Regions from separate parts of the Homo sapiens genome. Here all the other regions are linked to region 3. Evidence: fine-mapped expression QTL. A gene starts in region 3. Each other region holds a variant in brackets. All regions are shown on one strand. Distances are between the middles of the regions. Region 1 overlaps CES4A (carboxylesterase 4A). Region 2 holds the start of LOC107984821 (a long non-coding RNA gene). Region 3 holds the start of CES2 (carboxylesterase 2).

Region 1 (2,500 bases), 59 kb after region 3:
GAGGGGGCAAATAGACAAGGGCACTTCAGGAAGGGACATTGGATGTGAGGCTTCAACGACTCTTGGCAATAGGAGTGGGGCAGGATGACAGCCTGGAAGAGGAAGAAAAGAGTATCCACGGGAAGTCGGATTCAACTTGGCCTATTTCATATCTATGCCAAGAGCTGGCTATGGTGTAAGTTTGCTTGCATTGTGTATGTGTGCTTGTGTGTGCGTGTAATAAGTATGCTGTAGATAGATTTGTTGTCACCTATGTACAACTGCACTTGTACGCATATGTATGTATGTATATGGACATGCATTTTACTCTTCTGTTTCTGCATGTTTCTTGGAGTGTTTGTTTGTCTGTTTTGAGACGGAGTCTCACTTTGTCACCCAGGCTGGAGTGCAGTGGCAAAATCTCGGCTCACTGCAACCTCCGCCTCCCGGGTTCAAGCGATTCTCCTGCCTCAGCCTCCCGAGTAGCTGGGATTACAGGTGCCCGCCACCACGCCTGGCTAATTTTTGTATTTTTAGTAGAGACAGGGGTTTCACCATGTTGGCCAGGCTGGTCTCGAACTCCTGACCTCAAGTGATCTGCCCACCTCGGCCTCCCAAAGTGCTGGGATTATAGGCGTGAGCCACTGCGCCTGGCCTTTTTCTGCATGTTCCTTTGTAGATGAGCTGTGCTCACATGTACCTATATCATAAATTAGCATGTACATGTGAGTATTAGATGCGAGTATGCATATGAGTAAGAATGCATATATGCGTGTATGATTTCTTCCTAGAAACATGCTGGGCTAATGTTAACAACAAGAACAGAGGCGTAGGCCGGGCGCGGTGGCTCATGCCTGTAATCCCAGCAGTTTGGGAGGCTGAGGCGGGCAGATCACAAGTTCAGGAGATCAAGACCATTCTGGCTAACATGGTGAAACCGTGTCTCTACTAAAAATACAAAAAATTAGCCGGGCATGGTGGCGGGTGCCTGTAGTCCCAGCTACTCGGGAGGCTGAGGCAGGAGAATGGCATGAACCTGGGAGGTGGGGCTTGCAGTGAGCCGAGATCGTGCCACTGCACTCCAGCCTGGGCGACAGAGCAAGACTCCATCTCAAAA[A/G]AAGGACAGAGGTGTAGCTATATTAATATCAGACAAACAGAAATCAAAATGAATAATGCATTTATTGCCATTAAATGACGCAGAGAAATAGCCCATATAATAGACATAAATTTTTATTTATTTATTTATTTATTTATTTATTTATTTTTTGAGATGGAGTCTCACTCTGTTGCCCAGGCTGGAGTGCAGTGGCGCGATCTCGGCTCACTGCAACCTCCGCTCCTGGGTTCAAGCAATTCTCCTGCCTCAGCCTCCTGAGTAGCAGTATTACAGGTGTGTGTCACCACGCCCAGCTAATTTTTGTATTTTTAGTAGAGACGGGGTTTCACCATTCCTGACCTCGTGATCCACCCACCTTGGCCTCCTGAAGTGCTGGGATTACAGGCGTGAGCCACCGCGCGCAGCCGACATGAACTTTTATATGCTTACTGATAGGGATTTGAAATGTTAAATGAGGTCGGGCACGGTGGCTCATGCCTATAATCCCAGCACTTTGGGAGGCCAAGGCGGGCGGATCACGAGGTCAGGAGATAGAGACCATCCTGGCTAGTACGGTGAAACCCCATCTCTACTAAAAATACAAAATTAGCCAGGCATGGTGGTGCATGCCTATAATTCCAGCTACTCGGGAGGCCGAGGCAGGAGAATGGCTTGAACCCGGGAGGCAGAGGTTGCGGTGAGCCGAGATCACGCCATTGTACTCCAGCCTGGGCAAAAACAGCGAAACTCCATCTCAAAAAAAAAAAAAAATTAGCCAGGCGCGGTGCTGTGTGTCTGTAGTCCCAGCTACTCAGGAGGCTGGAGCAGGAGAATCACTTGAACCTGGAAGGTGGAGGTTGCAGTGAGCCAAGATTGGGCTATTGCACTCCAGCCTGGGCGATAGAGAAAGACCCCATCTAAATAAATAAATAAATAAATAAATGAGGGCCGGGCGTGGTGGCTCACACCTGTAATCCCAGCACTTTGGGAGGCCAAGGCGGGCAGATCACGAGGTCAGGAGATCGAGACCATCCTGGCTAGCATGGTGAAACACCGCCTCTACTAAAAATACAAAAATTAGCCGGGTGTGGTGGCGGGCGCCTGTGGTCCCAGCTGCTCTGGAGGTTGAGGCAGGAGAATGGCGTGAATCTGGGAGGCGGAGCTTGCAGTGAGCCGAGATTGCGCCACTGCACTCCAGCCTGGGCGACAGAGCAAGACTCCATCTCAAAAAATAAATAAATAAATAAATAAATAAATATAAATAAATAAACGAAACGTTAAAGGAGAGAAAAAATTCTGAGAGAAGCACAAGAAGAAGTGGACAGACACACAATGGTTATGATCAATTGTTATGAAAAGCAGCCACTGCTTCCCATGACAGATGGGCCAGGGTCCCATTTGTGGCTGAGTGGCTGCGCAGGGGTG
Region 2 (2,844 bases), 29 kb before region 3:
TTTCTGGTCAGTGGGGATGTGAAGACAGTGAGGGTCCTCATGTCTCACAGATAGGGGTCACTGGGATACGACCACTGGGTGGTGTTGGGGGGGCCCTGCATGAGTCCTGTGACACTCCTGTGAGGGTGTGAGGGTAGCTGCGTGACTACAAGGTAAGAGGCTGTTGTCATGGAACCCATGGTGAGCGTAGTTGTGACACCGGAATCGGGAGATCCAGGGAGCCTCATCTCCAACTGTGACACATGGGGGTGATGGAGGGAGCCGAGTCCCAGTCCCCACATCAGTGACTCCTGCAGCTCTCACAGCCTGACTCATTGCATGGCCCCGGACCTGGTACCCCCAGCCTCCTCGCCCCCGGCTCTGGCGCCTTTCTCTCCTCGCGTCCTCCCTGTTCTCAGGCGACTCTTCCTCTTTTGTACCCCCCCCATGTCACCCACCTACCAAAGGGGTCCCAGGGAGGAGGTCAGGGATGCTAGGGAAGAACGAGGAAGGGTGGGCCGAGGCAAGCTCCTCGCACACTCACACATTCCGATGCGTGCATCACACAGACCAGACTGCAGCATATACTTATACACCCACAGACACACGTGTGCACACACGCCTGGTAGAGTGACTGGGCCACTAAGAAGCCTCCCAAGCTCAGTCTTCCAACATCAGCCCTGTCTGGTAGGCCCCCACCACCCCTTAAGTCAGGGTCCCATGCCGCTGAGGCCCTCACATTAGAAACGCATCCTCCCGCCGCAGCAGTGTGTCTGGAGGTGACACCCTAGGAAGAACTTCTGCCCCGAGGCCCCAGCTAGAGTCCTGGGTGGGTGTAGGTAGATGTGGGTGGGGTGGGGTCTCTGAGGGCCCGAGACTGTTGCTTTCTTTGTGGGTGAGGGCCAGACTGACCTCTGGGCCTCCGGCTTCAAGAGCCCTAATCGCTGGGGCTGGAAAAAGTTTAAAAATATCCTCATGTTTACATTCTTTCCAAGCTGCCTCCTGATCCTCCGTGCTGGGTCCCTTTGATCTGGCCCAGTGCCTCTGGAAGGGGCCTGGGAGAAGGGGAGCATGAGGCCTCTGCTGGGGCCCACCCCTCAACCCCCTCCAGCTCCAGCCCAGAACCCTGTGAGACCCTGGACATCACAGACCCTAAGAGCACCTGGGCACTGGAAGGGAGCTGGGGCTGGAAGGGGTGTCTTGCACTCTTGCTTTGGGGCTGGAGCTGGGGCCCCTCTCCAAACTCCCTCCCAAAAGCCTGGGCCTCTTGGGACCTCTAGGGAGTGTGTGTAAGTGCGGGGATGTAGGTCCCTCAACAATCCATGCACTGGGGAAAGTCACATTTACTGAGCCCTGCAGTGCCTGGCACTGTGCTAAATGCATTGTGCAGGGATTATCTCATGTAGTTTTCCTAACGACAAAAACTTGTATCACCAAGTAAGCCAAGGCTCTGAGAGGTGAAGCAGTTTTCCTGGGAACACAT[C/T]GCATGGATAAGCACAACACATGCTCTTCTACCCATAGAGCTATTGGTTGGCCCCCACCTTGCTCTAGCAGGGGCGAGGCCCTGCCTACAGAATGAAGCCTGCCTCACTAGCATTAATCTCTACAGGCATTCACTGGCCCACTGCCAAGCCTAGAGACCAATCAGCTTTGTGTCTCTCTTCCTCTGCGACCCAGGATAAGCCACACCCCCTCTCTGATCCTCACCTTTCTCTCTTTCTGTTTATGTAGAGACAGAGTTTCACTTTGTTGCCTAGGCTGGCCTTGAACTCCTGGCTTCAAGCAATCCTCTCACCCTGGCCTCCCAAAGTGCCAGGATTACAGGCATGAGCCACCGCACCTGGCCACCTTCCTCTGCAGAATGGGGCTGAGGATACAGGAGAGTTTTATGTCCCCAGATGCCCAAGGAACCTGGGCCCTTGTCTGTGGAGAAGGGGCTTGTGGACCTGGCGGTCAGCTCCAGCAGTGACAACCAAGAGTGGTCCGGGGCCTGGAGGCCCGAGGAAGAAGCCCTCAAACTAGAGCAGATGCCTTCATTTGCCCTGGTATCCTGTCATCCACCCTTTCGTCTGTGGGTCTCCCATCCACCCGATTACCAACCCACCCATCCATCTACCCACCAATCCATCCAGCCATGCATCTGCCTAGCCATCCACTTATTCATTCACCCATGCACCCTCCTATCTCCCTACTTATCCATCTAGGATAAGGGCCAGAAAGTGGTGGTTATAGCTCAAGTGACGCATCTTATGGCTGTATGAACCTAGAAATTTCCCTCCTTCTCTTTGCAATTCACCTTTCCATCTTTACAAGAAAGAGCTGATCTGGGTGATCTCTAAGGCCCTGCTGGGAAATCTTGAGGGAGCAGAGACCACCTGAACGCTGTGGACATTTCCAGAGAGGTAACACGGACCTTGGACAGATAGTTATGCCATGTACCGTGGTTCTAAGACTCCCAGCTACGGCCCTTAACCTCCCTGATCTTCAAGATCCTCCACTGCAAAATGGGGCCAATAATCCACCCTCGTAGGTTGATAGGAAGATTAGATGAGACACTACCTCCAGAAGATTTGCACCCTGAAGACTTCTGAGTGCATGCAGGCTGAGCAGAGGATATCCTGGCAGAGGGGCAGGGAATCCCTGCCTGGATGAGGGTAGCCAGCAGAGCCTCCAGTGGGGGTACCTGAGCCAGGATGACAGGGGCCAGCCTCAGAGTCCAACCCCTGGGCTGGGGATCCTGGCTGAGTCTTTGCCAGGTTGCCCGCCCTGTCTCTCTTAGCTGGGCTTGGCCCCTATCCCACAGAATCTGCCAATAGTGGAGAGATTATCTCCTAAAAATAGGGCCTGGGCCCCACAGAGGTTGTT
Region 3 (2,833 bases):
GGGAGCGCAGAAGCTTGACCTTGATGGACAGACCAATAAGGGTGGCCATGCTGCAGTGCGGAATGGTTGGTGTGAAAGCCACAGCCACTGTACTCTCGGGGTCGCTAACCTGGTTGTGGAGGAGAGATGTCAAGAGTCAACCACCCTCAGCCCAAGGTCCCTCTTCTTAGTTTGTTGTTTTGGGCAAATCATCCAACTTCTATGGGCCTCAGTTTCAACACCCATAAAATAGGCACAACAATCTCCCTCCCCAAAGATACCCTTCGGTGTTCGTGAGCATAGAGCACGCCAGCTCCTGCTGCACAGAAACCTTTCTGACTCTCTGGAACAACTCGCTCCCCTCGGAAGTGACTCACCTGAACCCGCACCTGCTCTACTACGTTCAACTCCTCTAGCGTCAGTGGATGCTCCGGGTCATTGATGGAGCGAATCAGATGTGGGAAGTGAAGGAAAAGGGACTCTGCGCCCTTGCCCACTTAGAACCCTCTGCCAGGAACGCCCTGCTGGGATGCGGCTCCACCAGCTGCTCGATATCACTGCTCCCCCCACCGCAAGCCCCCGGAACCCGCCCGCGCCCAGCAGCGGCGGATATCGAAGATCTCGCGTGCGTCGATGCTGTCGGGAACCTGCTCGTCCTCCTCGCCTGCCGTCACAGGCCGCTCCCCAGAGCGCTGGTAGATGAGGGGGTTGGCATTCTCCAGGAGGCCGCCGCCGACCCCGCCGCCGCCTACCATCGCGGAACCACCACCGCTGATCCTAGCAGGCGTGCGCTTCCGCTCCAACCCGCGCACTTCCGGAGAACGGGAAGGGGGCGTGGCGTGGCGACGGAGTCGCGCGAGGGACACGCCGCGTTGTGGGTTCTCGGCCTGAGGTGCGAGAGAAGCGGTGACCGCGGCCCTGGCTGCTCGGACCCGGGAACATGATGGTCGCTGGAGCAGAAGGCGCTGAGAAGGGACCACGGCGGCGCTGGGTCGTGCGAGCCAGTAGCGGGCTGAAACGTAGAGGCCAGAACCAGGTCTCAGGGGGCACTAAAGGCGGTCGGAGGTAATCCCCACACCGCTTCCTCCTGGAAGTCAGGCTGGCCGGGAGCTCCCGTATCCAGGACGGTTGGTCGCCTCTGGCCTGGCAGGGATCCTAGTGTCTCGGGACCTCCCGGTGACGCGCCTGCCTCCCCTGCTGCACCATAGGCCCGGGAGTACGGCGTCCCCACAGCTTGGACCGGCAGGGGCTCGTGAAATGTTTGTCAAGTGGATAAATGACCATGGCCGTGGTCTCCGCGGGAGGTGAGGAAACTGAAAGCCACCGAGGAAAAGGGGGGCGCTCCTTAAGAAGTGCCGCGGTCACGTGTACGTTTCAAAAGAATGGCGTGACTGAGTAGGGAGGGGACCGCGGAGACCCTCAGACCCTGGACTGTAAGGAGATGAGGGGCCGTGAAGGGGAACCCAGGAAACTGAGTCCTGAAAGCAAGGAGGAACTTCCAGAATGAAGGGCGCCGACACTCCTTCCTGCCTTTGCTCAAGCGGTTCCTTCACCCCGATCAAGTTCCTTCCCATTTCTCCATCTGGGGGATCCTGAACGTGCACATCCTCAGAGAAGCCCTCCTGGGGTCTCCAATTCTAGTTTATTGCCCCCTCCTATCGATCCCCCAGCGCGCTCATCGGGCCTGTGGACAAGGACAGGTTTGAAGAGAGGATTCCCTGGATCGCGGAAGGGCTGCAGGAATGGCACAGCCCCTTCCGAGGATGCCAAAGGAGCCCGGGCAAAGGAAAGTGGCCGTGCCCGGGCCTGCCTACCACTAGATCCCCACCCACCTATGACTGCTCAGTCCCGCTCTCCTACCACACCCACCTTTCCCGGCCCAAGCCAGCGCACCCCGCTGACTCCCTGCCCAGTCCAAACTCCAAGGCTGGGCAAGGCACTGATCCACTGCTGGACAGACCCGGGGCAGCCTCTGGGTGAACAGCAGCGTGTCCGCCGGCAGCGAACCGAGACCAGCGAGCCGACCATGCGGCTGCACAGACTTCGTGCGCGGCTGAGCGCGGTGGCCTGTGGGCTTCTGCTGCTTCTTGTCCGGGGCCAGGGTGAGGCTCCCTCGGAGGGGCGACAGGGACCGGGCTCAGATCTGCCAAATGCTGCGGAGGCAGAACCTGACAGTGCGGGAGGGCAGGCGCCTGGGAGGTAGGAGCTGGTGGAGATGACAGCGTGGAACTCGTGAGCCCCACGCAACGCCTCCCCGCCGCCCAAGGTGGGCTCCTAGAAGCACAGAAAGGGTCGGGCTGGGGGACACCACGGCAAGGAACCAGCGGAGTACAGGGGCCCCAGGAGCGCCGGGACATGCCAGGCCGGGTAGGCAGCCTGGGGTCGGAGTGGGTGAGGGATTGGGGTGTGGGGATTCAGTCCATTTCCCTCTTATGATTGTGGCTGTAGCGGGTGCTGCCGGCCGGTAATAACAGTAATAGCTTCTGGCAGCATCTGGCTCTCAGTGTGTGGCGTCCTTGGCCAGGGGGGATGCCCTGAGCCCTCCAAAGGGGCCTCAGACAAGGATAGTGGTCCTTGGGGAACAGAAGCCCCCAGGCGCCAAATCCTAAAGCAGATCTAAGAGGCCACAGTGGCTGGGTGCGATTGGCTCACTCCTTTAATCCCACCACTTTAGAAGGCCAAGGGAGAGTATCGCTTGTGCCCAGGAGTTGGAGGCCAGCCTGGACAACATAGTGAGACTCGGAGTGTACAAAAAATTGAAAGAAATTAGTGGGCTGTGGTGGTCTGTGACCTGTAGTCCCAGCTACTTGGGAGGCTGAGGTGGGAGATCACTTTAGTAGGGGAGGTTGAGGCT

The links. PIP is the estimated chance that this variant, and not a neighbour inherited with it, causes the effect.
Region 1: its variant is fine-mapped to the expression of CES2 in thyroid (GTEx, PIP above 0.99).
Region 2: its variant is fine-mapped to the expression of CES2 in esophagus mucosa (GTEx, PIP above 0.99).

The regions. Positions count from the first base shown.
Region 1 is chr16:66,993,009-66,995,508 of GRCh38, forward strand. The region is part of intron 1 of CES4A (carboxylesterase 4A); the gene reads left to right. Among named protein-coding and RNA genes, the nearest start is that of CES4A, 5.7 kb to the left of the region's middle. The variant A/G (reference allele first, on the strand shown) is at 1,097.
Region 2 is chr16:66,904,373-66,907,216 of GRCh38, forward strand. LOC107984821 (a long non-coding RNA gene) reads right to left here and starts at 888. Exons shown (of 3, transcript XR_001752244.2): 1 at 719-888. RefSeq lists an enhancer at 1-1,285. The variant C/T (reference allele first, on the strand shown) is at 1,463.
Region 3 is chr16:66,933,631-66,936,463 of GRCh38, forward strand. CES2 (carboxylesterase 2) reads left to right here and starts at 1,886. Exons shown (of 12, transcript NM_001365405.1): 1 at 1,886-2,081. The coding sequence starts at 2,006. It overlaps CIAO2B (cytosolic iron-sulfur assembly component 2B), which reads right to left and starts at 772. Exons shown (of 5, transcript NM_016062.4): 1 at 593-772; 2 at 357-436; 3 at 1-109. The coding sequence starts at 734. RefSeq lists enhancers at 378-427, 458-657, 1,496-2,108.